4 linked regions of the Homo sapiens genome follow. The protein of the gene in region 2 interacts with the protein of the main gene of each other region in a biochemical or structural test. Each region holds a gene or a part of one and is shown on either strand. Other genes may lie near its edges. The genes, in order: CREBBP, SREBF1, EP300 and FBXW7.

Evidence for each region.
Region 1: the proteins of SREBF1 (region 2) and CREBBP form a complex in vitro, tested with the Homo sapiens proteins (5 studies listed by BioGRID, with this or other methods).
Region 3: the proteins of SREBF1 (region 2) and EP300 form a complex in vitro, tested with the Homo sapiens proteins (3 studies listed by BioGRID, with this or other methods).
Region 4: the proteins of SREBF1 (region 2) and FBXW7 form a complex in vitro, tested with the Homo sapiens proteins (3 studies listed by BioGRID, with this or other methods).

Annotation. Positions count from the first base shown.
Region 1 is NC_000016.10:3,877,710-3,885,081, reverse strand, and holds the start of CREBBP (CREB-binding protein), read left to right. Parts: upstream 1-4,368; 5' UTR 4,369-5,165; coding exon 5,166-5,250; intron 5,251-7,372. UniProt on the Homo sapiens protein: Acetylates histones, giving a specific tag for transcriptional activation. Mediates acetylation of histone H3 at 'Lys-18' and 'Lys-27' (H3K18ac and H3K27ac, respectively).
Region 2 is NC_000017.11:17,812,969-17,819,991, reverse strand, and holds part of SREBF1 (sterol regulatory element-binding protein 1), read left to right. Parts: intron 1-266; coding exon 267-454; intron 455-537; coding exon 538-672; intron 673-757; coding exon 758-979; intron 980-1,617; coding exon 1,618-1,732; intron 1,733-2,075; coding exon 2,076-2,296; intron 2,297-2,400; coding exon of another isoform or gene 2,401-2,444; intron 2,445-2,534; coding exon 2,535-2,736; intron 2,737-2,855; coding exon 2,856-3,034; intron 3,035-3,273; coding exon 3,274-3,535; intron 3,536-3,618; coding exon 3,619-3,785; intron 3,786-3,963; coding exon 3,964-4,132; intron 4,133-4,662; coding exon 4,663-4,771; intron 4,772-5,047; coding exon 5,048-5,157; coding exon of another isoform or gene 5,158-5,244; coding exon 5,245-5,377; intron 5,378-5,581; coding exon 5,582-5,747; intron 5,748-6,060; exon of another isoform or gene 6,061-6,156; intron 6,157-6,222; coding exon 6,223-6,423; intron 6,424-6,446; exon of another isoform or gene 6,447-6,512; coding exon 6,513-6,624; intron 6,625-7,023.
Region 3 is NC_000022.11:41,144,571-41,151,593, forward strand, and holds part of EP300 (histone acetyltransferase p300), read left to right. Parts: intron 1-2,168; coding exon 2,169-2,246; intron 2,247-3,266; coding exon 3,267-3,376; intron 3,377-4,467; coding exon 4,468-4,605; intron 4,606-5,190; coding exon 5,191-5,628; intron 5,629-7,023. UniProt on the Homo sapiens protein: Functions as a histone acetyltransferase and regulates transcription via chromatin remodeling. Acetylates all four core histones in nucleosomes. Histone acetylation gives an epigenetic tag for transcriptional activation.
Region 4 is NC_000004.12:152,533,070-152,539,980, reverse strand, and holds the start of FBXW7 (F-box/WD repeat-containing protein 7), read left to right. Parts: upstream 1-3,888; 5' UTR 3,889-4,854; intron 4,855-4,947; 5' UTR 4,948-5,040; intron 5,041-6,911. UniProt on the Homo sapiens protein: Substrate recognition component of a SCF (SKP1-CUL1-F-box protein) E3 ubiquitin-protein ligase complex which mediates the ubiquitination and subsequent proteasomal degradation of target proteins.

The sequences.
Region 1 (7,372 bases), on a different chromosome or scaffold from region 2:
CAGGCAATTATCCTGCCTCAGCCTCCCGAGTAGCTGGGATTACAGGCATGCACCTCCAAGGCCGGCTAATTTTGTATTTTTAGTAGAGATGGAGTTTCTCCATGTTGGTCAGGCAGGTCTCGAACTCCCAACCTCAGGTGATCTGCCCGCCTTGGCCTCCTAAAGTGCTGGGATTACAGGTGTGAGCCACCACACCTGGCCGAGGTATTTGTTTTCAAAACAGCTAAGAAAAAGCAGTAGGTTTGGGACTTGAACCTAGCTCTGTCTGGATCCCTCCACACCACCAGACCACATTCTGCCTTCTGTCCACCAGGAACTGGCTGGAATCCTGCCTTCCTGGGACTACTCCCCCAGGCCTCTGCCCCCCAACCCCGGGACTCCCACCCCTGGGGGATCAGTTATTATGATTTTGTGCTATTCTGACTTGGATTCTCTGCTTATCTTTTCAATGTGTGTCCTGTTTGTGTTTTTCTCCCCAATGCTGTTCTGCATCGCTTGAAGGCAAAGTCCAAACCTGATGCTATCTTTTAATCTATTTAAGCCTAGAAAGGGACAATCAATATCAAATTGCAACAATTCCATTTCTTTTTTTTTTTTTTTTTTTTTTTGTGAGACGAAGTTTCATTCTTGTTGCCCAGGCTGGAGTGCGATCTTGGCTCACTGCAACCTCCGCCTCCCGGGTTCAAGCAATTCTGCCTCAGCCTCCCAAGTAGCTGGGATTACAGGTGCCCCCCCACCATGCCCAGCCATTTATTTGTACTTTTAGTAGAGATAGGGTTTCACCTTATTGGCCAGGCTGGTCTCGAACTCCTGACCTCAAGTGATCCACTCACCTTAGCCTCCCAAAGTGCTAGGATTACAGGCGTGAGCCGCCGCATCCAGCCAACAATTCCAATTCCATTTCTTTCTCTTTCTTTTCTTTTCTTTTCTTTTTTTTTAGACAGTATCTCACTGTTGCCCAGACTGGAGTGCAGTGGTTTGATCATAGCTCACTGCAGCCTCAACCTCCTGAGCTCCAGTGATCCTATTGCCTTGGTCTCCCAGGCAGCTGGGACTACAGGTGCATGCCACCACGCCCAGTTCACTTTTTAACATTTTGTTGTAGAGATGAGGGTCTCACTGTTGCCCAGGCTGGTCTCAAACTCCTGGGCTCTAGAGATCCTTCCACCTCGGCCTCCTAAAGTGCCGGGATTACAGGCATGAGCCATCATGCCCAGTCCTTTGATTGTTTTTTAATGTGGTATCTGAGACTGGAGAGGGTGAGGTTTGTGGAAAGAGCAGGAAGCCTTAGGTGTGCACCGGAGTGAAGCCCCTTCGTGGCTGGGTGGCTTGTCCTCCTTTGTGCCTTATTTCTTCATCTGTGAAATGAGGACAATTTTTCCTTCCAGGATTGTAGGAAGTGCTATCCATGGGAGGCATGGCAGAGCGGCCTGGTATCCCTAAGGCACTCACTTGTTGAAGGTGATCCCCAGCTAAGTGAGTGCAGGCAGGAGCCACGCTTCCCTCCTTGCTATTCCCCCATCAGTGTCTGAGCTCAGGGTTCTTTGAGTCAGACTGAAGGGAGAAGAAATCGAAAGGAAAGAAAAAACAGGTATCAGTGAATACCAGAATTGATCAAAATGATACAGGTGAGAACAATGAGACAGAAAAAGGGACTGCAGAGCCGGTATATTTTGAGGGTGGAACATGGTGAGACAGGAAGACTAGGGTCTTTGGAGAGTGAGGACATGGGTTCCAGGCCCAGACTTGCCATGTCCGGGTTATTTACTTCTGAGTCCTTGCGACTGAGTTCCCTTGCTTTCCTCTGTAAAATGGAAACCTGTCAGGGAATGGCTCAAGCTCCTGTGCCCACTTCTGTGTAAACCACTCACCAATGGACCCCTGGGGGGCTGCATGGTGTCTCCACTGCCCCAAGGCAGGCCCTAAGACCTCTAGGTGGCTGGACACCTTGTCCCGTTTGAAGAGTGGCCTGGAGCCACCTCAGGCTGGGGCCCACCCTTTTCAGTGGCCTGAAGGCCTCTAGGACTCAGAGCACCTGACACAGCTCATCACTCATTCAGTTTTACAAACCTACTTCTTCTTGCAGAGCACTGTTTCTGTGACTAAGACACCATCTTTGCCCCGAAGGAGCTCACAGACCCTTGGTGAGACGGACACCCAGAGCATTCAGATACAGGGTGTGGCCTGCCCTGTGCCACTGATACACTTCTTGCCATTCCTGTGCAAACTGACTTCTTGAATACTTCCATTTATGGCTTCCAGGGTGTGCTATTTTAACTCCTTGAATATATGGGGATCTCTTTATGTTTGGCCAAGGGGATTAGCACAGTCTCAATGCCCTTGGGATTCTCAAGAGCTATTTGATGCATAAGTAAAAACATGAACTAATTCGGGGGCAGTGGAGGCGGGGAAGATGGGGCAGGATGTGTTATGTGTTCTCTCACAGAGCCCAGAAGTGATATGGGAGCCGAGGAGTGGGCTAGGAGGGCTTCCTGGAGTAGGTGACATTTGAACTGGGTTCTGGAGGATGAGTTAGAATTTGCCAGGCATGTCTTCTCAGCACAGGGACCAGCATTTGAAAAAAAAAAAAAAAAAGCCTGAATGATGTGAACTGCCTACTGGCCAAGTGGGTGTAGGATGATGATGGTGAAGTGAGCCATGTAAAGTAGAAGAGACAGATTCAAGAGCGGTATCACGGCCCAAGATTTTGAGCAGTACAGGTAAACAGAGAAAAGCAGAACGATCACTCAATCTTGACACTCAAGGACAGTCACCATATGTACATACACCTATGTTTTTAAGAGAATTCATACGTGTTCTTTTTTAAAGAAAGACTATGTAGTGTTTTCTTTTTCTATGTCTGGGATTTTGTTTTGTTTTGTTTTGTTTTTGAGACGGAGTTTCACTCTTGTCGCCCAGGATGGAGTGCAATGGCGAGATCCCGGCTTACTGGCCTCCCCAGTTCAAGTGATTCTCGCATCTCAGCCTCCCGAGTAGCTGGGATTACAGGCGCACGCCGCCACGCCCAGCTAATGTTTGTATTTTTGGTAGAGATGGGGTTTCACCATGTTGGCCAGGCTGGTCTTGAACTCCTGACCTCAGGTGATCTGCCACCGCGCCTGGCCAGGGAGTTGTTTTAAACAGATTTTCTCCCTCTCTTTTCGGGATGTTAACTCTGGTGCTGCGTGGGGAGCAACGTGGAGAGCAAAGAACACTTAAGTGAGTAGCTGCCACCATAGCCACCGGGACAGTGCGGGAGGAGCAGTCTCCCAGGTAAAGACCGTGGGTAGAGGGGCGCGTGGCGGGTGAGAGGGAGGAGTCCGCGCTGACTCACGGGTTTCTGGCTTAGGAAACAGTGGAGCTGCTGATACCTTTATGAGGAAGCCGGGCAAGTTTGGAGGGGCAGATAACTAACTGGGATGGGAACACCTCGGGTATTCGTAGAAGTGTCCCGCGGGCTGTGGTCTCGCGTGGGGGACTCCCCAGGCCCGCACCCCTGTCTGGGGCACCTGCGAGGCGCCAGGCAAGTTGCCTGGGGCGGGGAGTGCGGCCTGAGCGTCCAGGCTTAAGCCCCGATGCGCGGGCCCTTCTCCGCCCAGGCCGGCCCTCGCCACCCCGCTCTCACAGGTGAGGGTGTCTGCCCTGCCGCCTTGGGATGCGAACAGGCGTGAGGCCCCCTCACTCCCTAGTGTCACGAGGTAGGGCGGGACCCGAATCCCGGCCCTGCCACTTCCTGCCTCGACCACTTTGGAGCAGTTGCTCGCCCCCCGCCTCAGTTTCCCCATCCGCCCACCTCGTCGGCAGGACCCAAGGGCGGTCTGTAACCTGCAGAGGCCATTCCACTTCCCTGGCCGGCGGCGAAGGCTAGTGGCGCGGCCTGGGCTGGGGTCGCCCCGACCGTTCCCGACCGACGCCACCTAGGAGGGTCTGGGGAAGGGGACGCGAGGAGCTGGGAACACGCAGCGCCGCCCCAGCGGGACGGGCGGGCCCGGGCTGGCGTCGAATCCGCGCCCGAGAGCCCAGCCCGCGGCCAGGCCGCCGCTCCCGGAGCCCGCTGGGGCCCGGAGCCCCGGCCCTCTACGCCTGGTCGCCATCAGAACAAAAGCTGTGGCTCAGCCCGGAGCCCAGGCGCCCCGCAGGCCTGGCCCGCGCCGGGCCGCCAGCTTCCCTACGCTTGGCGGCCGCGCCTTCAGCCCTTCGGCCCGAGCACGCTCGGCTCTTTCCGCCACGGCCGGCGCAGGTGGAGGGGGCGGGGCGGGGGCCGTGCGTGGTGACGCCGCGGGGGGGTGACGCACCGGCGTGCCCCGCCCCCACCCCCTCCCCGTTCAGGCTCTGGAAAGAGAAGAAAAAAAACTTTCTTTTTTTTTTAATTGAGGAATCAACAGCCGCCATCTTGTCGCGGACCCGACCGGGGCTTCGAGCGCGATCTACTCGGCCCCGCCGGTCCCGGGCCCCACAACCGCCCGCGCACCCCGCTCCGCCCGGCCGGCCCGCTCCGCCCGGCCCTCGGCGCCCGCCCCGGCGGCCCCGCTCGCCTCTCGGCTCGGCCTCCCGGAGCCCGGCGGCGGCGGCGGCGGCAGCGGCGGCGGCGGCGGCGGAACGGGGGGTGGGGGGGCCGCGGCGGCGGCGGCGACCCCGCTCGGCGCATTGTTTTTCCTCACGGCGGCGGCGGCGGCGGGCCGCGGGCCGGGAGCGGAGCCCGGAGCCCCCTCGTCGTCGGGCCGCGAGCGAATTCATTAAGTGGGGCGCGGGGGGGGAGCGAGGCGGCGGCGGCGGCGGCACCATGTTCTCGGGGACTGCCTGAGCCGCCCGGCCGGGCGCCGTCGCTGCCAGCCGGGCCCGGGGGGGCGGCCGGGCCGCCGGGGCGCCCCCACCGCGGAGTGTCGCGCTCGGGAGGCGGGCAGGGGATGAGGGGGCCGCGGCCGGCGGCGGCGGCGGCGGCCGGGGGCGGGCGGTGAGCGCTGCGGGGCGCTGTTGCTGTGGCTGAGATTTGGCCGCCGCCTCCCCCACCCGGCCTGCGCCCTCCCTCTCCCTCGGCGCCCGCCCGCCCGCTCGCGGCCCGCGCTCGCTCCTCTCCCTCGCAGCCGGCAGGGCCCCCGACCCCCGTCCGGGCCCTCGCCGGCCCGGCCGCCCGTGCCCGGGGCTGTTTTCGCGAGCAGGTGAAAATGGCTGAGAACTTGCTGGACGGACCGCCCAACCCCAAAAGAGCCAAACTCAGCTCGCCCGGTTTCTCGGCGAATGACAGCACAGGTGAGGAGGGGGTCCGGGGCGGCGGGGGCCCGGGGCGCGCTGTCACCCCCACCTGAAAGAGAGCGTCCGGGGGTCGTGGTCGCGGATACCGATCGAGCCGGGAGCTCGGAGCAGGCCCCGCAGCCCGTTCCCCTCGCCCCGCGCGGGAGGGTGGAAGTTCGTCGCAGGACTGTCACTGGGCCCGAGTTGGTCAGCACACGCCCGGTGCACTCGGCCTCCCCGCACCCGATCAGCCCTCCTCGCGGGGACCCTAGTGGCACTCCAGGAGGGAAGAAGTAAAGTGCAGCGTGTGGGTTTGTTTGGTAATGTCCTACGCATCCATCCGCGGCCGTGTCCACACGCGTGGCCGTCCAGAGGAATGACAGCGGAGGGTACCTTTGATGCTTAGAGAAAGCAAGATCGCGGCCAAAGGTAGGGCAGTGTGTTTTCTGGATTGGCGACACATTGACCAGGCTGCATTCAGAGGACACTCACAGCAGCCGCCAGCTTGCGAGTTAGAACCGAAGTTTCTTGGAATGAGTGAGTTCCTTGGAAAGATGCTTAGTGCTTATTTTCAAAACTCCTTGTTTTGTGTGTGTGTGTGTGTGTGTGTGTGTGCGCGCGTGTGTGTTTTTAGTCAACTAGTCATTCCATTTTTCAAAACCCAAACTTCGTTAGCAAGATGTCATGAAAGTTGCTGTGGTGTGTTTCATTTCCATGTATAACTTCAAAAGAAAGTTAAACAGCAGGTTTAAGTTCATTTGGGCTGCAATCTCCATTTGAGTTTGTGTTGCTTTCACAGTGTAGATGTACAAAGAATTAAGGAATGTAGGAATTCCAATTTTTCAAAAAAATGGAGCAGGATACTGAATAAATCATCTTTTTGTTTGTTTCCTTTCATTAAACGGCTTCCCTGGAAACTTTCTTAAGTTATCATAGCTGCTTAAGAGAAGTATTTAGTTTTCTATTAATTCAGTAATTCTGGGTCCCACTGCGCTGGTTCATGGTAACATGAACTAGTTGTATTTCCTCTTTTAGAGCTCTCTCCTTTGCCGCAAAAACTTGTGTGCCGCTGCGAACAATTCCATCTCCAGCGCAGCTTGCATTTCTCCAGTAGTCTTGCAGTGGTAGCATCTGAAAATCAGTTTCTAATGAATGAGTCCAAATTGAATTACATCGCTGCCTTCAGATTTGCACTAGACACAGCTGTTCAACTTGTGGAAATAGTTCTGTGACCGACCACTAGCATATTAAAAAAAACTGCTATTGCTGTTGAAACAAAACCTGAATTTTGTGGCTTAAGTTTGAATACAATTCCTGGAATCAAGTTATGATAAGCGACGTTTAATATTAATGTAGAAGTGAAAAGCGATTTTTAAAGATCAATCATAAGGAGATTCTTATCTAGTTAAAATTTGTTAAACAGTGGGGAGGAGTAAATGATGCTCATGGTATATAAAAATCACTAATGCTTTTCTTTTTAGCTGATAAAAGTTGAGTTTGACGTTAATCTTATAAAATGAACTTATTGAAGTGAGAAATTTGGAAACAGTAGTTTAAATGCCGTTGTACTGCAAAACAGATCTCCGTTGCTTCATTAATCTTGCTGTGTTTGAGTAGTCTTCAGTTCTGTGAGACGTAGGTCATACGTGGCGAGTTCAGCTTTGAAGCTTGTCTTCTGAAACTGGTAACCTGGATGGCTTTGTAGCTTTGCTGTTGTTGAATGAATTTGTTGTAGATTTTGTCTTAAAAAGGGGGACAATTAGTAACACAAGACTTAACAAAAAGGCATGTCCTTATATGTACATCCAGCTGTTTCCAAGATGGAGCCCAAAGGTTAGCTTTTTCCATAGTAGTGTCCATTATTGGATGATCAGATGCTTAATAAGTTGATCAGAAAGGATTTTCCACACTTAACCACCTTTTCCCCCTTCCTTTACAATTTTGATCCTTGTAAGGCACAGGGGCTCTTTCGTGGGACCAAAAGTCAGCTTTAAATGGCTCCGATTTAATCCAAAGTAGAAAGTCAACATCATACTTAAGTTGGGTCATGTGTTACACATTCATCACCATCACACTATTGTGAAAGGGTCTGTTAGTATGGGGGACCAAGGAAGGGCTCATTATCAAGCACATTAAACAA
Region 2 (7,023 bases):
TTTAGAAACTGGGGCTCCACTCGGCTGCTTGAGATGCCCTGTTACTAGCAGTCCTGGTGTGCTTGTTGCCGGGGTAGGCGCAACCTCGCACTGGAGGCCTGGCTTGAAGCCAGTGCATTTGCATCAGAGCCCAGGCAGGGACTGTCCATAGGAAGCCACATGGGGCAATGACTCATCCAAGGCCAGTCGGTGATAGAGACCTGAAGAGCAGGTTGAAAGTGGGAGAGGGAGGTCTGTGTCTGCAGCCCCATGCTTTATTTCTGCAGGAAGCCCTCCCGGGAACACCCAGCAGCCGCTGCCTGGCCTGCCACTGGCTTCCCCGCCAGGGGTCCCGCCCGTCTCCTTGCACACCCAGGTCCAGAGTGTGGTCCCCCAGCAGCTACTGACAGTCACAGCTGCCCCCACGGCAGCCCCTGTAACGACCACTGTGACCTCGCAGATCCAGCAGGTCCCGGTGAGGGGGTCTGGCCAGGGGTTGGGGAGGGGGCAGCCCCAGCCCAGACACACAGCTTACAGCCAAGCCTCTCCCACCCTCAGGTCCTGCTGCAGCCCCACTTCATCAAGGCAGACTCGCTGCTTCTGACAGCCATGAAGACAGACGGAGCCACTGTGAAGGCGGCAGGTCTCAGTCCCCTGGTCTCTGGCACCACTGTGCAGACAGGGCCTTTGCCGGTGGGTGACGTGGGCAGGGCATAAGGGAGTGGGGTCTACACACACACACACATGCCCACCTGGTAACATGTGCCTGGCCCTGCAGACCCTGGTGAGTGGCGGAACCATCTTGGCAACAGTCCCACTGGTCGTAGATGCGGAGAAGCTGCCTATCAACCGGCTCGCAGCTGGCAGCAAGGCCCCGGCCTCTGCCCAGAGCCGTGGAGAGAAGCGCACAGCCCACAACGCCATTGAGAAGCGCTACCGCTCCTCCATCAATGACAAAATCATTGAGCTCAAGGATCTGGTGGTGGGCACTGAGGCAAAGGTGTGGAGAGGCCTGCAGGGGCACAGACCGGGGTGTCCCTAGGAAGGAACAGATCAGGGGCAACTGGAAGGAAGAGAGGGAGTGAGACTGAGCCTGGACAAGCAGGGAATTGGAATTCAGCCTCCCCAGGCCTGGCCAGCCTCGTTTATTTAGTTAAACTGGTTTGCAGGCCTCTTCAATAAAGGTGGGGCTGTGCTAGGCATTGGGGATGCAGCAATGAACAAGACAGACAAAAATTGTCCCTCAAAGAAGAGCCGACCTTCTGGTGGGGGAGATGGACAGTAGGCAGGATGAATAAGTGCTCGAGACCACCACGTTTGGCTCGTTGCAGAGAAAGCAGGAAGAGGATGGTGAGGGTCCCCTGGTGGTAGCCAGGGAAGGCCTCCCTGAGATGGCGGCAGGCACAGCAGCAGCTAGCCAGACCCTGCTGTCTGCATCTTACATTCTAACCCTATGCCCGGCCTGGGAGGTGGGTGCTACTAGGCGAGGAACGGTTCAGGTAGAAGGAACAAGTGCAAAGGTCCTGAGGCAGTAATGTTGCAAAGCAGCTCCGCACCCCCTTGCTAGGGCTCTCCAACCCCACAACCCCCGACCTGACAGGCCACCTGTGCGCTCCCCCTCCCTCCCACACCGTGCAGCTGAATAAATCTGCTGTCTTGCGCAAGGCCATCGACTACATTCGCTTTCTGCAACACAGCAACCAGAAACTCAAGCAGGAGAACCTAAGTCTGCGCACTGCTGTCCACAAAAGCAGTGAGTCCTGGCTTTATTGAGCTCCAGTCTGGCCTCTTCTCTAGCCTTGCTCCACCTCCCGGCCCCACCCCATCCCTAGCCCCACCCCACCCTTGGTTCTGGCCCACCCTCTGCCCTGCCCACCTCACCCTTGGCTGTAGCCCTGCATTCAGCTCTAGTCCCTTGGTTACCTCTGGTCCTGAAAGAGACCTGGTGCCTCCCTTTGGCCCTAACCCAGCCCCATCAAAGCGTCCTGGGCTAGCTTTAGGAGCTACAGTAGTCCCTAGGCCTCCAAGGGCCTAGGCTCTGATTTGGGGTCACATATCCAGCCTTTACTCCTGGCTCTGTTCCTTTCGGCCCACAGAATCTCTGAAGGATCTGGTGTCGGCCTGTGGCAGTGGAGGGAACACAGACGTGCTCATGGAGGGCGTGAAGACTGAGGTGGAGGACACACTGACCCCACCCCCCTCGGATGCTGGCTCACCTTTCCAGAGCAGCCCCTTGTCCCTTGGCAGCAGGGGCAGTGGCAGCGGTGGCAGTGGCAGTGACTCGGAGCCTGACAGCCCAGTCTTTGAGGACAGCAAGGTTGGGCCCTGCCACGGTGCCCCCTTCCCCACTCCCAGCCATATCCTCTGAGCCTCATGACAGGGCCGGGAAGACCCTAACAGATCCTACCTCCCATTTCATAGACAGAATAACTGAGGCCTGGAGCCACGTGGGGTCCCACAGTAAGGTGGGCAGAATCCTGACCCCCCCCTTCCCAGCCCCATGCTCTCTGGGGTCCCTCCGATTCTGCCCTCACCACCCTGCCCAACCCCACCAGGCAAAGCCAGAGCAGCGGCCGTCTCTGCACAGCCGGGGCATGCTGGACCGCTCCCGCCTGGCCCTGTGCACGCTCGTCTTCCTCTGCCTGTCCTGCAACCCCTTGGCCTCCTTGCTGGGGGCCCGGGGGCTTCCCAGCCCCTCAGATACCACCAGCGTCTACCATAGCCCTGGGCGCAACGTGCTGGGCACCGAGAGCAGAGGTGGGACCGGCCAGCCTGGGCATCTTTGGGAGGGACACTCGGGGTGAGCCCCCAGGCTTGTGAACTTGGGGCTCTGGATTTCCTGGGAGCTGTGTCCCCAGCTTTCCCTCTGTCCATAGATGGCCCTGGCTGGGCCCAGTGGCTGCTGCCCCCAGTGGTCTGGCTGCTCAATGGGCTGTTGGTGCTCGTCTCCTTGGTGCTTCTCTTTGTCTACGGTGAGCCAGTCACACGGCCCCACTCAGGCCCCGCCGTGTACTTCTGGAGGCATCGCAAGCAGGCTGACCTGGACCTGGCCCGGGTAAGGGGCTGGCCCCGGCAGAGTGGGCAGGGCAGGGACCCCAGGCTGTGAAGGTGCTGGGTGTCAACCCTTGTTCCTGCTCCCTGTGCACACCATGAATCTGTCCCGTCCTCCCTGTGCCTAGCCACGCATCCGCAGACCCCCACCACCCCTCCAGAGCCTGCTGTGGACGGCTCTTCTGAGCTTTGGGGCAGCTGCTCTGACCTCACTTTTCTCACCTGGAAAACCCTCATCCACAGGGAGACTTTGCCCAGGCTGCCCAGCAGCTGTGGCTGGCCCTGCGGGCACTGGGCCGGCCCCTGCCCACCTCCCACCTGGACCTGGCTTGTAGCCTCCTCTGGAACCTCATCCGTCACCTGCTGCAGCGTCTCTGGGTGGGCCGCTGGCTGGCAGGCCGGGCAGGGGGCCTGCAGCAGGACTGTGCTCTGCGAGTGGATGCTAGCGCCAGCGCCCGAGACGCAGCCCTGGTCTACCATAAGCTGCACCAGCTGCACACCATGGGTAGGACTGAGCGTGGGGCGGGCTCCGAGGTGCTCCCTGCTGCCTGTGCTCCACCCACAGCCTCATGCCTGCTTGCCTTCCAGGGAAGCACACAGGCGGGCACCTCACTGCCACCAACCTGGCGCTGAGTGCCCTGAACCTGGCAGAGTGTGCAGGGGATGCCGTGTCTGTGGCGACGCTGGCCGAGATCTATGTGGCGGCTGCATTGAGAGTGAAGACCAGTCTCCCACGGGCCTTGCATTTTCTGACAGTGAGTGGGTTGGGGGGCTGGGGGCTTATCCCTGCAGCTCTCTCCAGAGGCTCCCTGGGTAAGAGCTACACGGGATGTGGCAGTGGTTACCAGGGGGACTCCAGGCCAAGCTGGGACTCGGCCCGGGGTCTGGCCCCAGGCTGTGTCCACTGTGACAGCCCAGTACCCTCCCCTACAGCGCTTCTTCCTGAGCAGTGCCCGCCAGGCCTGCCTGGCACAGAGTGGCTCAGTGCCTCCTGCCATGCAGTGGCTCTGCCACCCCGTGGGCCACCGTTTCTTCGTGGATGGGGACTGGTCCGTGCTCAGTACCCCATGGGAGAGCCTGTACAGCTTGGCCGGGAACCCAGGTGCTCTCTTACCCCTTCCCTGTCCCCTCTCCTGTCCCTCATCCTCATTCCTGTCCTGTCCCTTGTCGCCTGAATCTCTGGCTGTCTCTGGCCACCCCAGTCCTTCTCCCTGCCATGGGTTGTTGCTGTGGGGGTTGCAGGAAGGGAAAGGCCTGGGTGCCTCTCGTTCCCATTGGGGCTTTCAGAAGCACATGCAGGGATTGATGGGCAGATGGCTAATTGGAGAAGTGACCCCAGGCAGTGCCGCTGTGGAGTAAGGAAGCGGAGCCAACAATGGCATCTTCTCAAGTCGGTTTTCCTTTGGAAGCAGTGTAGGGCAGGCCTCAGTGTTGTCTCCTGGCCAAGGCTGGTGCTGGTGATAGTTATGTCCACCCGCTTTCCCCTGTCCTTGGCAGGGGCTGCACCCAGGGGCATGCCGGCACTTCCCAGTGGCCCTAGGTGTGGCCCCAGCCCACCCAGGAAAAAGCCCTTAGCTTGGAGAGGAGGGTGGGGCCCTGCTCCCCACCCCACTCACCTCCTCCTCTCCACAGTGGACCCCCTGGCCCAGGTGACTCAGCTATTCCGGGAACATCTCTTAGAGCGAGCACTGAACTGTGTGACCCAGCCCAACCCCAGCCCTGGGTCAGCTGATGGGGACAAGTAAGTGTCGTTGTGCCCTCCTCCAGGCAAGGCCCCTCCGGCGGGATTCTGAGAATAGCTCTGGCCTCAACCCTGTGGAGAGAGCCCAGAGCTGGGCTACCGTGCGTGCCATGCACGCTTCATTCCTCTCTGAGTTTCCTCTCCCCACCAGCCTGTGGGAGGAGACAGTGGCACTTTGCAGAGCCAGGGGCCAGGCTGTACTCTGGAGGGCAGGTGGGGAGCACCCTCCTAGGACCCCTGCCATCTGTTCCGACAGCCAGCTCTCTCCTTCCACAGGGAATTCTCGGATGCCCTCGGGTACCTGCAGCTGCTGAACAGCTGTTCTGATGCTGCGGGGGCTCCTGCCTACAGCTTCTCCATCAGTTCCAGCATGGCCACCACCACCGGTGAGTCCCCGGCCCCTGTCCTGGCTCCCTTCTCAGCTCCCCCGTGCAGCGTGACTGAGGGTTCAGGGGACCCTCCCTCTTCTGCAGGCGTAGACCCGGTGGCCAAGTGGTGGGCCTCTCTGACAGCTGTGGTGATCCACTGGCTGCGGCGGGATGAGGAGGCGGCTGAGCGGCTGTGCCCGCTGGTGGAGCACCTGCCCCGGGTGCTGCAGGAGTCTGAGTGAGTGCACGGCAGGTTCCTCCTGCCTGGTCCCGGGCTCAGCCTTCCTCATCCCCTGGGCACTGTGCCTCACTCAGCCTTTGTTCTGTGCAGGAGGAGTCACCACCTTTTTTCCTCAGGGAACTCGAGCCAGGGAAGTGGGGGGCACTCAGCCAGGGCTTGTGGACTGGTCTGACTGGCACTCTTCTGCCCTGGTCCCAACAGGAGACCCCTGCCCAGGGCAGCTCTGCACTCCTTCAAGGCTGCCCGGGCCCTGCTGGGCTGTGCCAAGGCAGAGTCTGGTCCAGCCAGCCTGACCATCTGTGAGAAGGCCAGTGGGTACCTGCAGGACAGCCTGGCTACCACACCAGCCAGCAGCTCCATTGACAAGGTGAGGGGTGGGGTCAGGGGCCTGGCAGGGCTGGGGGATTCAGCTTTCCATTCCCTGGTTCCTCTCCCCAGCCCCCAGGGGCTGCAGAAGACCATGGGGTTAGCCCAAGCAGCACAGGATAGGGGGTCCAGCAGACCCTGCTTTTTGGCTAAGGCTTCTGTCCAGAGGAGAGGGGTTGCCCCTATCTGGCCTCAGTTTCCCCATCCCTGGGAGGAGGGGGGTGGATGGTGTGGTAGGATCCCTTTGGAGGCCCTGCATCAGGAGGGCTGGACAGCTGCTCCCGGGCCGGTGGCGGGTGTGGGGGCCGAGAGAGGCGGGCGGCCCCGCGGTGCATTGCTGTTGCATTGCACGTGTGTGAGGCGGGTGCAGTGCCTCGGCAGTGCAGCCCGGAGCCGGCCCCTGGCACCACGGGCCCCCATCCTGCCCCTCCCAGAGCTGGAGCCCTGGTGACCCCTGCCCTGCCTGCCACCCCCAGGCCGTGCAGCTGTTCCTGTGTGACCTGCTTCTTGTGGTGCGCACCAGCCTGTGGCGGCAGCAGCAGCCCCCGGCCCCGGCCCCAGCAGCCCAGGGCACCAGCAGCAGGCCCCAGGCTTCCGCCCTTGAGCTGCGTGGCTTCCAACGGGACCTGAGCAGCCTGAGGCGGCTGGCACAGAGCTTCCGGCCCGCCATGCGGAGGGTGAGTGCCCGATGGCCCTGTCCTCAAGACGGGGAGTCAGGCAGTGGTGGAGATGGAGAGCCCTGAGCCTCCACTCTCCTGGCCCCCAGGTGTTCCTACATGAGGCCACGGCCCGGCTGATGGCGGGGGCCAGCCCCACACGGACACACCAGCTCCTCGACCGCAGTCTGAGGCGGCGGGCAGGCCCCGGTGGCAAAGGAGGTGAGGGGGCAGCTGCTGACCAGGGATGTGCTGTCTGCTCAGCAGGGAAGGGCGCACATGGGATGTGATACCAAGGGAGGCTGTGTGTGTGTCAGACGGGACAGACAGGCCTGGCGCAGTGGCTCACACCTAGCACTTTGGGAGGCTCAGTTGGGAGGACAGCTTGAGCCCAGGAGTTGGAGGCCGCAGTGAGCCTGAGTGACAGGGAGAGTCCCTGTCTCAAAAAAAAAAAAAGACCAAGCATCTTCTTGATGGTTACCTGATGACAATTCCTTTCACAAGGAATCAGTGGGGTGACTGTCATTTGTGGGATACATGACTGCACGTGCGTGACTCAGTCTGTGGACTTTGTGTGTGGGCTGAGACTAGGGTGGGGAGAGGGGAACCCGCCAGGCCCCC
Region 3 (7,023 bases), on a different chromosome or scaffold from region 2:
AGTCTCGAACTCCTGAGCTCAAGATATCCACCCACCTCGGCCTCCCAAAATGCTGAAATTACAGGTGTGACCCACTGCGCCCAGCCTTTAAATATTTATCTTAAAAAATAGTATCAAGATGTTCCTTTAAATAATTCATCAAGTTTCCTTAAAATGACAAGAGCTGCCTCATGGAGCAATAATAGATACATTCGTATCTGCATCATATGGGGCAAATGTGGGCAGTAGGATTGCGGTTTTATTTTTAAACCATTTTCATTTGATTAGTCTCAAATACTTAAAAATCAGAAGATTTTGCATTTAAAAAGTCTGAATTTCTGGCTGCTTTAAAAAAAAAAGGACATGTCTGGCAGACTTGACCCCCTTTCTCCTACAGTGACACCTGTCTATAGCTGCACTCATGGCTGACTCTAGAAGAGCTGTGTTTTCTCTCCACTTCAGTCCTCACCATTCTCTATTGTTTTGGGTACTTAAAACAGTTTTACTTGGTATTAGCTGCTTGGCACTTGCCATTTAGCTTGGAACACCTATCCATATTGTTGACTTGAAAAAAAAGTTACTCATATCTTAGGTGAAAACATTGTTTTGTAGATAGTGTGCGTGAATACAGATATGTGTGGGGAGGAAGAGGAAAGGTTTATCTCAAGGTCATTTGTTGGATCCTGATTCATTTTTCTATTGATTTTTAATTTTTATGTAATGAGCATGGATTATGCATATACTTCTTATAAAGCTTGCAGAGTTACAGATAAAAGTTTATATGAATAAATGTTGAGCATTTCCTCTCTCAGTTTTGCTCATTTACTAAAGGTTGAAATTTGTCTGAAGGGATGGACATCTCCTTAGAAGAGCAGCAGGTCTTCCTCTCCTATGCCTGAGGCTTGAATGTACAGCCCTTGATGGAGGGTATGGCCAGGGTGGAGCCAGGTCACTACAGACATCTGTCCTTTCCGAGGGTGCTGTAAAAATATTTTCTCTGTGCACTATGTTGAAAGTACTACACTAGAGCATGTGCAGATAATCCAGGAAAAAGACCTTAGAATTTATGTATTTATATTTTAGGTTTTTTTTGAGACGGAGTCTCGCTCTGTCGCCCAGGCTGGAGTGCAGTGGCACGATCTCAGCTTACTGCAAGCTCCACCTCCCGGGGTCATGCCCCGGGTTCACGCCATTCTCCTGCCTCAGCCTCCCGAGTAGCTGGGACTACAGGCGCCTGCCACCACGCCCGGCTATTTTTTTGTATTTTTAGTAGAGACGGGTTTCACCGTGCTATCTAGGATGGTCTCGATCTCCTGACCTCGTGATCCGCCCGCCTCGGCCTCCCAAAGTGCTGGGATTACAGGATATTTTATTTTTTTAAGAATTATTTCTGTTTTTGTATTTAAGAGGTACATGATATGTAGTGTGGTATAATATGCATATTATTTAAAATCAATGTTCACAGTTTATGTGCATAAAAACGTTGTGCTACATGATCAAATTCGGCCACCATTAGACATGATTCATAGCTATTATCCATGGAGATACTCTGTTGCATGCCAACCAGACTCAGACTTTGTTAAACAATAACATATTAAATGCTATGATGGCCTCAATTTTTTTTTTTTTTTTTGAGACAGAGTCTTGCTCCATCGCCCAGGCTGGAGTGCAGTCGTGTGATCTTGGCTCACTGCAACCTCCGCCTTCCAGGTTCATGCGATTCTCCTGCCTCAGCCTCCTGAGTAGCTGGGATTACAGGTGCCTGCCACCACGCCTGGCTAATTTTTTTGTATTTTTAGTAGAGACAGGGTTTCGCCATGTTGGCTAGGCTGGTTTTGAACTCCTGACCTCAAGTGATCCACCCACCTCAGCCTCCCAAAGTGCCAGGATTACAGGCGTGAGCCACTGTGCCTGGCCTATAATGGCTTCAATAGCTTATTTTTCTATCAACATTGAAAGCACCCGGGCTCATAAAGGAATACCAACAAATCCACTTGGAGGCATTTTTCTGTATTCCAGAAATAACATTTTCTTCAAGCTTCTGTCTAGTTCAGAGCTTTATTTTGTGATTCATACTCAATTTTCAAAGGTATTATTAAAAATATTTTGTGGGGTTTGTGTGTGCAGTGAGTTTTTGTTTGGTTAAGGGAAGATGGTGCAAAGATACTTATTTCTCTTTTTTACTCTAGATGGCCCTCTACCTGACCCAAGTATGATCCGTGGCAGTGTGCCAAACCAGATGATGCCTCGAATAACTCCACAATCTGGTAAATAGTGAAAAAAATTTTTTTATTTTAAAAGAATCCCCGGTGTACTGCAAGATAATACTTGCTACCTGAACACCCGCTTTATGCCAACAGCAAGTGTCATGATTACCTGCCCATAGAGGAAGAGGGGGTGAAGAGCAGGTTGGCTGGCAGATCACAGGGCAGGTGACATTAAATGATCAAGTATCCATTAAAAAACAACTGCAGGCTGGGCATGGTGGCTCACGCTTGTAATCCCAGCACTTTGGGAGGCCGAGGCTGGTGTACCACCTGAGGTCAAAGTACGAGACCAGCCTGGCCAATGTGGTGAAACCCTGTCTCTACTAAAAATACAAAAAAATTAGCCGGTTGTAGTGGCACGGGCCTGTAATCCCATTTACTCTGGAGGCTGAGGCTGGAGAATCACTTGAACCCAGGAGGCGGAGTTTGCAGTGAGGCGAGATCGCGCCACTGGACCCCAGCCTGAGTGACAGCAAGACTTCGTCTCAAAAAAAAAAAAAAAAGCAGATTGTAAAATTTGTAAAATTCAGTTTGGAGATCCTGTTAGTTGATAATGTCTGTTTACTGCTACTGTGAATGAGACAGATTTATTTATACTTAGAAGGTTGAAAGCCAGTTTATTAGTCCTGATAGAATCAGGGCCAGGTGCGGTGGCTCACGCCTGTAATCCCAGCACTTTGGGAGGCTGAGGCGGGCAGATCACAAGGTCAGGAGATAGAGACCATCCTGGCTAACACAGTGAAACCCCCGTCTCTACTAAAAATACAAAAAATTAGCTGGGTGTGGTGGCGGACGCCTGTAGTCCCAGCTACTCAGGAGGCTGAGGCAGGAGAATGGTGTGAACCCAGGTGGCAGAGCTTGCAGTGAGCGGAGATTGCGCCACTGCACTCCAGCCTGGGCGACAGAGCAAGACTCCGTCTCAAAAAAAAAAAAAGATACAGAATCAGACATAAGAATTCTATCTTTTATTATTCAATTTCACAAAGGCATTCAGATCTAACATTTTGCTCATATTCACAGGTTTGAATCAATTTGGCCAGATGAGCATGGCCCAGCCCCCTATTGTACCCCGGCAAACCCCTCCTCTTCAGCACCATGGACAGTTGGCTCAACCTGGAGCTCTCAACCCGGTTAGTTTGACGTCTTTGGTAATCTCTTTGGCCTTTACCTGGTATTTTGAAAATCCTGTTTGTTCCTACTTTATAAATTCTCACAGTCATTTAAACAGACCATAACTCCTAGTTCTTCTGTAATTCTTCTGTATTTAACTCTACTAGAAAGCTGACCAAAAAACGAAAACAGCCAGTCCCTTGTCCCTGGAGTGTCAGTGTTTAGTGGCCTGCATGCGTTTTCACGGTCACTTCTCTTCCCTGATGTCTGTCTTCCCTCCTCCAGGCAGAGAACTGTCTTGCAAGGTTGATGGTGCGTTTTTGCCTGGTTCTTGAACTCGGAGAAGAGAGACTAGGCTTCTCCTGCTCCTTATGCGAACTCTTAACCAGTCCATCTCTCTACCTTGACCCTAACCCTCCTGCTGCCCTTTAGAGTTAGCTGGTGCCTCTGATTCTTGACCCTTTTGGGGGTTCCTGAGCATTACTACTTCTCACTAATCTGCCATTTTCAACAGGGAGTTCTGTCCTTCATTTTAACCTATAAGACAGATGGTCTTAGCTTATGAAGTTTTTGGCCTTTGGTACTCGAGATTTCTTTCTTTAAGGCCTGAATTTGTGTAGGGTAATTTTGGAAATGACATGTAACAGTGCTAGAGCATTTGTGGACCATGAATGCTACCAGATTCTGCTACAACTTGTAAGATTTTCTTGTTTTTACATATTATGGGTCTTAGAATTTGTGTTATTACATCACTGACATGACCTCATGAAATTGTGATTAACTCTCCTCACTTAACAGAGCATGCAAAGAAAATTACCTGCTATCCTTGTGCTAGGCATATTTGTGTACCAAGAGAATGTGTGTTCCATCCTCTTACTATTTCTTGGAGTAGGCCTAGGTAAACTGTGAGGCTATTTCTCTTTATCTTGGCACAAGAGTCAGTTGTTCTACAACTTTCTTCCTTCTCCTCTTCAGCCCTCTTCACCTATACTCCTGTCTTTGGCTTTTCTCTACTTAATAAGCCTGACGTTAGGAGCATTTGATGATTTTAGTTATAGTAGAATAACTATAATGAAGCAGTTTGGTGATTTGTGTTTTTTTTTTTTTTCAGCCTATGGGCTATGGGCCTCGTATGCAACAGCCTTCCAACCAGGGCCAGTTCCTTCCTCAGACTCAGTTCCCATCACAGGGAATGAATGTAACAAATATCCCTTTGGCTCCGTCCAGCGGTCAAGCTCCAGTGTCTCAAGTATGTCTCATAAGTGGATTTTTCACTTATTTTTGATTCTTGAAACTTCTCTTGATGTAGGTTTTTATAGGAGAGAGTGGCAGCAAATAGTGGGTGAAAACAGATGATTTTTTAAAAAATAACAATTTTGGACTTAGGGTATTCTGAACATGAAGAGATTATTCTGTGACATAGCAATGGTGTTAATTGTTACAAAGTAGGAAATAATTTAAATGGATAGTTTTAATTGTTTTTACTAGTGAACACTTTAAAATAAATCTTAGAATTAAACACAATGTAGAAGGAAATCTGGCTGAAAAGAGCATAGGCAGGCCCTAGAGCACTCTGCACTCAATTCTGCCATTTTTCTGCGGTGGCTGAGGCCATTCTGCTGAATGGTTTGAAGTCTCTTTAGTTAAGTACTATCTTGATGGTGCTGTCCAAAGATACATGCCCAGTAATAGGGTATTTTACACATTTTGAAATAGACACATTGCTACTCTTTGTTTAATCAGTTTGTGTCCTAAATTTATATATCATGCCTATGTAAGTATTTCCTTAATTCTGTTCTGAATTGCTGTCTTGTTATGTTTTTTATTTTAACAGGCACAAATGTCTAGTTCTTCCTGCCCGGTGAACTCTCCTATAATGCCTCCAGGGTCTCAGGGGAGCCACATTCACTGTCCCCAGCTTCCTCAACCAGCTCTTCATCAGAATTCACCCTCGCCTGTACCTAGTCGTACCCCCACCCCTCACCATACTCCCCCAAGCATAGGGGCTCAGCAGCCACCAGCAACAACAATTCCAGCCCCTGTTCCTACACCTCCTGCCATGCCACCTGGGCCACAGTCCCAGGCTCTACATCCCCCTCCAAGGCAGACACCTACACCACCAACAACACAACTTCCCCAACAAGTGCAGCCTTCACTTCCTGCTGCACCTTCTGCTGACCAGCCCCAGCAGCAGCCTCGCTCACAGCAGAGCACAGCAGCGTCTGTTCCTACCCCAACAGCACCGCTGCTTCCTCCGCAGCCTGCAACTCCAGTAAGTAGAGATTTGGATTTAGGCAGAATCATTAGAGCTATACTGTAGTATTATATTACTTCTGGGCCATTTCCATTCTCTTTTGCTTTATCTCTTACTGTTTTCTCCACAAGTAGAATGTAATCTATTTTTCATTAGGGACTTTTGTATCCTGTTTTGCCTTCCTGTGATAGTACCTATCGTAGCAGGAGCATAAAGATTTTATTTAGCTCTGACTTTGACCATTATGTTTCATGTTGTACCCTGAGGTCTGAAGGTACGTAAAGGGGTACGACAAGGGGACACAATCCTTCTCCTTATTTAGTATATTATTTAGTGCAGCACATAAATTTTACATATATTTAAGGAATCTTTTTCAAACAGTTTGAGCCATAAAACCTAGAGATTGAATTTAAAAATTGCAGATTTGGACGGGCGCGGTGGTGTACACTTTTCATCCTAGCACTTTGGGAGGCTGTGGCAGGCAGATCACTTGAGGTCAGGAGTTCAAGACCAGCCTGGCCAACATGGTGAAACCCTGTCTCTACAAAAAAATAACAAAAATTAGCCAGACATGGTAGCGGGTGCCTGTAATCCCAGCTACTCGGGAGACTGAGGCAGGAGAATGGCTTGAACCTGGGAGGTGGAGGTTGCAGTGATCCGAGATTGCGCCACTGCACTCTAGCCTAGGCGACAGAGTGAAACTCCGTCTAAAAAAAAAAAAAAAAATTGCAGATTTATGAGTCCTTGTGGCCCAAACCAAAGTTTAAAAATAAGATGAGAGAATTATAGACCCAGAACAACCTGTAGCTTCCTTGTGAGAGGTTGGTTATGTATATAATAAAAATCCAAATTCTCATCTAATAGTTGAATCCTTATTAATAGAACTTTTTTTAAGGGTTTAGAAGCTTCTACTTTGATACCGATATTAATATATATCGGTATCCAATAGTTCTCAGCCATGTTGATGAACTGAGAAGTTCCATGAGTCACAGCCGTTTTATAAAGTACTGTACTTGACGGATGGCTGGTTCATCGTGGCCTCTGATAGACAAGGAAGGACAGAATGAGAGAGGAACCAGTGGATCTGCTTGATTTTATTCTTTATAAAATCAAGGATACTTCCAGAAAATACTGACTTCTCATTAAGAGATTTCTTATGACAAGCCTTAGGATAAAGATAGGGAATGCCAGTTTATCTCATTAGAATCTAGCGATTCAAAACAGCCACTCTCTGGGACATCATTATATTTATTGTCTCCTTTTCTGTACCTTTGAAACTTTCTCTGGTGAGAAGGTAAAAACAAGCCAGTCTTTCTTATTTTCTTTCACTCATTTCTGTATAAATGTGAGCTCCTCTGAAGCAGACATCTTTGAAATCCCCACACACTGCCAGATAATGATAGTTATCAATGA
Region 4 (6,911 bases), on a different chromosome or scaffold from region 2:
TTTTGGGGAGCCCAGACCTGGGAGCTCCCCAAGCCAACACTGTGACTCCCTCTTTGGGTCCCTGCAGTTCCTGGCGTCTCCAAGCTTCCGGGTGCCAATGTGTTCCCTGGTGCCAGCTGTGGAAGCTGCTTGCAGTATGCCTGGTCCAGCCACAGCCTTGCAGAGAGCTGGTGCATCTGGAGCTGCCCGCCCCACTGCAGCAGCTGGTGTGTCTGACTGCGCAGTAGCCAGACCTCACGCTCGCTCACACATGCCTTGCCACTCCACGCCGTACTTGCCCTTGGCAGGTGTGGGATCCAGGCCGGTAGCATAAGCTGAGCACAGCCTGCCAGGCCAAGTAGGTGGAATGAGCCCAGTGGGCCTGAGCAAGACTTGTGCAAAGGCGCCACAGGCTACAGAGGTTTCTGGCCAGAAAAGCGACACCCTAAACATCCCATAACATTACTTTACCTGTTCAAATGTGGACTATGAAAGGATATTGAAAAGTTGGGCATCTCAGAGACTTAGACATTGAAAAGATACTAACGCGCCACAAAAATGTAAATCCAAATAGCTAGTTGTATACAAGAAGGTCCTCAACAGCATCAGTAATCAGAGAAATGACAGTTAAAACCACAATGATATATTACCATACACCCACCAGACTGGCAAAACCAAAAAGACCAATAATGTCAAGTGTTGTGAAGGTGTGGAGCAATGGGACTCATATATACCTAGTGTGACTGTGTAACCCTCTAGAAAAGAACTTGGCATTATTTATTCAAGTTTATGATACATATTACACTCCCAGGTATATGTTATACAGAAACTGACGTAGATGTGATGGAATACATATATGAAGAATGTTCACATTAGCATTTATAACAATCCTAAACTGGAAACAACCCAGATGTCCATCAGCAATAGAATGGCTAAACATATTGTCACATATTGTTATAATGGGACACTGTAATATGCAGCAATGAAAATGCACAAATTACAGCTATAGGAACAACCTGAACAACATATGAATTAAAAACAATGTTGAGCAAAAGCAGCAAGAACAACAGATTACATATTATATTGTTCCAGTTACATAAAGTTCAAAAGAAAGAGTGAGACTAAACAATATATTGTTTAGGGATGCATGCTTGCGACAAAGCGACAAAGAAAAGCAGGGAAATGATTATCACAAATGTTAGAATAATGACTACACTTAGGAGGGAGGGAAAGAGTTGTGTTCGGGAAGGTCATGGCAGGGAGGGGAACTTCTGAGTTGCTGGAAATATTCCATTTCTTGACCTGGTTGATTGGTTACATGGTGGTTTCCTTTATAATCACTTATACTATATAATTGCTTTATGTATTTAAACTATATTTCACAATAAAAATGTTAAAATTAATATAGATAGTATTTCTGGAAAGCAAAATTTTGCCAGATAATTTAGCTTACACAATCTTTGACAGTAAAAGCCACTGATATGGAATAACGAAACACTGATTAGTTTCTTGTAAGAGCTCACTTTCAAGTGTAGAGGTCAAAAACCTTATAAGAGTCTCCGTTTTTCTATATTTTAACACAGTATTTAGATCCTTATCTTAAATTGATGAACCAGGGAAGTAACTATTAGCTAAAACTTCAGATTTTTTGGAATTTTTAATTAACTAGCTGTTTTCTCCTCTGGATTAATAAGCAATACAAGGAACTAAAGAGATGCAGACCAAGTTGGAAATGTATGAACTTCCTTCTCTCCAGTCTCCAGTTCCAGCTGTTTCCTCCTGTTATCAAGCTGGGTGCTGAGGTGGGTATCTAGCCCAGTAAGCTTAGTGTGCTGTTATTAAATACTTTCTAAGTAAGTGGCTCAGGCTCTCCTGAGTGCCCTTCTGTTCCTCAGCACTGAGGTTGTAAGGTGGAGCCACTGACAATGAAAACAGAAGATCACGCTGCTGAAAAACCCTATGTGGTACACACTTAACTGGAGGTGTTCTCTGCTGGGCTGCAGAACTCTGATGTTTGCACTCTTTTCCTTCAAAGCCTACAAAGGTTAAACTCTCTGAGGTGTTTAGCTTCACAAAATCCCCTAAATCTGTGTGTTTTACTCCTTTAATTTCCACCATTCCCCTGTTGTAAGATAGGAAGAGGGGGAAAAACAAAAAATATTTATTTTGTAGCCATGTGAGACCATCACTTGTTGGTCTGATTACCTGTGAGTCTTATTTGGAAGGCTGTAGCAGGGGATTGGTCACGTAAAGACAGAAAAATCCAGGGTAATTTAAGCAGGATATTTAACCTGGCTCTTGGAACTTCAGGTCAAGGGCAGTAGGGTCAGGTGCTAGTCTGTGAGTCTCTCCTTGGTTTTGCCACATCCTCCTTTGCCCCTCTCACCACCTTTCCCGCAGCATTTTAATGAACACGAGCCCTTGGATTTACCCAGTTAAAAGTTTCCTTAGTTTACTGTTTGCAGATGGTAGTGGCAGTAGTGGGAGAAACCCAGAGCTTCCCACATTTGTCTATAATACACTTGCTCCTACCTTACCCCCTCCTCCAGGTGGAAAGACTTGTAAAATCCATTACTACTGCTTCCCAAGGAGGTAGAGTGTACTAGGGTCCAGGGACAGAATTGTGGAATCTGCTTTCATCATTGCTGCTGCTTTAATCTTTTTCTCATACTATTCACTGAAGACAGATTTCTGAGGATTCTGGTCCTTTTATCTTAAATTTGTTTTCCTAGAGAACTACACTTTAAACTTCATGAGTTTCTACTTAACTTTCCTTTCCAGGATAACATCTGTAGGAAAAGCTGCATAATAGTAATAACACTTATTTTAGAAAGAAAATAACCTTTGAGTCAGACCTGAAACAGGCCAACATTTCTTGATGACAACGTACACTGATGAACCAAGACCAGAAGCTCTCGAAAGCTCCAAACCGTAAGAAAGAACCATTCGTAAAAGTGAGGGACTATTAAATTCTTCCCCTGACAGTCAAAAATCCTTCAGCAATCTCCCAGAGGATGGCTCCCTTCCAATCCTCCCTTCCCGCCGCCCTAACAATCTGCGCGAGGATGGGTCCCTTCCCTTGCTCGGCATTTCGTCTCCTTTTCCACTAAAGACTCAGGTTGTGACTCTGTACTCAAGCCGCACCCCTGTTTCCTTTCATGGCTAGGGGGAGGGGAGGAATGTATTACAACTCATTTTTACAATGCACTGCAGTTTACAAAGCGCTTGCACTTCCACCATATCCTCTGAGCTTCACGAGTGCCACGTGAGAGAGGCATTCATTCATTCATTCATTCATCAAACATTTGCTCGGCCCGACCACACGTTATCCAACGCTGGGTCTCACCCCACGCCACGGGAAGGGTGGGGCGCTCTCTCCCTGGAGCAGGTGCAGATCAGGCTGTAGGGTAACTCCTCGATCAGTCCGGCTTTTCGAGGGTCTGTTTGGGGCCAAATGCCTCACCTTCGGGTGGTGCGCGCAGCTGCCTGAAGACGCGGCCTGGGCCTCCTCCTTCCTCCCAAAGGAGCAGTCCCCACCTGCCCCGAAGGAAACCGCTACAGACCAAGCTCTCCAGGCCGCCCTCGGGTCAGGGGTAAGATCGGGCGGCAGCTTAGGCTCGACTCGGCTCCTCCCCTTCCTCTCTTCAGTTCTGACGCGGCCGTAGAGGCGGCAGCGGCGGTGGCGGCTGCGAGTCCCGCGGCCCGAGGCGCACCCACCCGCTCGCCGATCCCCACTTCCTCTTCCCTTGGAGCGTCATCAGAGCGCGCCAGAGGCGCCCAGGGCGGGGTGGCTGGAAGGGGGAAAAAGGCCAGCGGAGGAAGCCTCAGAGCGGAAAGAAGAGGGAGGGGGAAGAGAGCGGTTGCTAGGTGACTTGCGTCATCGGCAGGCGCCGCTCTCCTCCCGCCCCTCTCTCTGGAGTGAGGCGAGAGCCCCGCACAGAGCGAGGGAGACAGCGAGCTGAGCTCCGGGCGCTGCCGCTGCCGCTGCCGCCGCCGCCGCCGCTGAGACTGAGAGCGAAGGAGCATCCGAGAGATCCAGTCCCCCTGCACTGGCCGCCGCCGAGACCTTCGCTCTCACCTGGGCCAGCGGGAGCCGCGGCCGCACTCCTTTCCCCCCCTCACCTTCCCGGCCGGCAGCGGCGGCTGCACACGCCGGAGCCGGAGCCAGAGCCGGAGCCCGAGCCTGAGCCGGAGCCGGCGGCTTGGGGGGCAGGGAGGCGGCTACCACGGGCCGGGAGTGGGTAGCTGCTCCGCGGTGAGAGAACGCTGAGGAGGCGCCAGAGCTTCTGCCTCGTCCCGTGGGGCGTGGGGCGAGACCCCCAAGGTGTAGGGAGGGGGGTCCCAGCCGCAGCGACACATGCGGGAGCCGGGAGCGGGGGCGGCGCCGAGCGGAGCCGGCCGGGTCCCTCGCCTTGCCGCCGACTCGGCCACCCGCCCGGGGCCGTAGCATCTTGCCCCGGAGTGTATGAACCGGGGCCCCAACCAAGCTCGGCAACCACCCCCCGGCCGGGGGGGCGGGGACCCCGATGTGAAGCGGCGGCTGGGGCGGCGGAGAGAACAGGACCGACGCCGCCGTCCTTTCCTCACCTTCCCCCTCCCCTCAGCCCCCTCCGGGGGTCTTCTCCCTTGGCCAGTCGCCGGCCCCCCGGCTCCTTGGCTGGACTCCGGGAGGAGTTCCTAGAGCCCCCCTCCCCCGCCCCAGTCCCGAGGGCGGCGGGGCCGGGGGGGACCCGGGGGGCCGGCCGCAGCCTCCACCCAGAGGAAACTTTACAAAAACAAAATCCGGAGTCTCCCAAACCTGACTGTCCCGGGAGAAGTGGCCCTGGACGGGCAGAAGCCGCAGCCTGAAAAGACCCAGGAAGAGGAAAAGAGGAGGTAAGCGGGGCCGCCGCCTCCCCTCCCCTGGCAGCGCGGAAGAGACCCGGGTTGCCGCCTGGTTTAGCGACACGAGCACCGCTTCTTCCTCAGTACCGCGCCGGAGCCTTCCGCAGCTGCCGCTTCAGTCCGAAGGAGGAAGGGAACCAACCCACTTTCTCGGCGCCGCGGCTCTTTTCTAAAAGTGTGAGTGGCCCCGGGAGAGGGAATTGAGGGGGAGAAAGTGGGAGGATGCCGGCGCTTCCTCCTGGAGTTTTGCTGATGTTCTCCAGTAGTGTTGGGAGTCTATCAATGAGGGAGTCTAGCTTTATTCACGGAGGGGGGAAGGTGTTAGGGAGGCCTGTATTTTGTAACTTTTTAGCTCTTTGTACGAGTAATGCAAGTATGCAGGTTTCTGTCGGAGGAGTCTTTTCTCCAAAGTGAATACTCGCACCTTTCTGGCCAGCAGTTGGCAAAGGGAAATTGAGGAAGCCAGAGCATATGTGCGCACAGAGGCCATCTGTATCTGTAACCTTTTCCTGGTACTGTGGGTGTGTGCGGTGTACTTTTTGTTTCGGGGGTACTCTCATATAGGTTCCCGAATGAGAACTACTTAACCTGTGGACCCCTGAAAGTAAAATTCCTTTTTTAAAAAACAACAACAAACCTGTTTTGAGAGAGGTTCATTTCAGTACCTATTGGTACAGGAGTTAACCTTCTCAGTTACTGGGTCCAATTTCATGTGTGTCAGGAGGACACTGTAACAGATGTCAGTTACTCAGGAACTTGAGTTGTTAGGAATCACAACTTACTTGGGGAAGAGCATTTATCACATTAATCATTTTATAAAAGTTGTGATTTTTTCCCTTTCACCCCCCCCTTTTTTTTTTTAGAGTAACAAATTACAGCACTTTTTTATTTGGTTTGAGGCTTTGCTTTTTTGAATTATCTTTATTTCTGTATCAATTTAGGATACATCTTTGATATTTAAGTCAGGAATGATTTTTTCCTTCCATTATTTTAAAGCTGAAGTTTATAAAACCTTTGACTTGTATTTTAGGTATCTTGTCAGAGTACCAAATTAAAGGTTTATGAAAGTAATTAATATTTCATATACAGACCTTAAGGGTTAAACATAGAGCAGAATTTTATGTAAGAAGACATAGACAGTAGTATACTGAGAATTGTGGTCCGTCTAGACAACTGTGGGCTCGTTCTGTCTGAAGCCACTGCTGAGAGATACTTTGTGGGAATGAATGTAAGCCTGGGGTTATCTCTCTTTTCGAAGTTCTCCATTCAGGATCTTGATTAGATTAATTTAAAACTTTCTCAAACTTAACAATGTTTGGTCCTTTTTTTTAAAGTAATGAGTTCTGCAAGTTTATTAGCCTGTGTATTATGTGACAGTTCATTTACATATTCCATACCTGTGTCCCTAAACTTTCAGGACACAGTCAGAGTTTGTGTTTCAAGAATTATCAGGACAAGCCTCAGTTCATCTTTTCTTAATTTTATGGACTTTCATTATTTCTACCATCAGTTTCTCCAACTGTTGTCTTAGAATAATGTCTTTCATTTGACCACTTTTCCCTCCTCTGGAACTTCTCCCACTGAATTGTTTTTCTTTAGTTGCCTTGTTATGCTTTGGTAAGGAACTTTAAATTCTGTCCTTTAAATGTGTACTGACATGAAAATACTGAATAGTGGATGTAATGTTAGAATCAGAGTCACGTATTCTGTTTTTCACTAAGATATTGCAAAGAGAAATGTAGTCATTTTCTAAAATACTGTACCCAAAATACAGTAGAAGCTGTATTTTGGGAAGGAGGGGAGGACAAACTAAGAAACAAACTATAGTTTGAATGTAGGTTGCACTCTGTCAAAGTTGCTTACTAACTTTAGGACCTACTTTTATTGCTTATGGATTGGTTAAAAATTACGGTATTTTTTTTTTTTTTGAGACAGAGTCTTGCTCTGTCACCCAGGCTGGAGTGCAATGGAGCGATCTTGGCTCACTGCAACCTCCGCCTCCCAGGTTCAAGCGATTCTCATGCCTCAGCCTCCCAAATAGCTGGGAC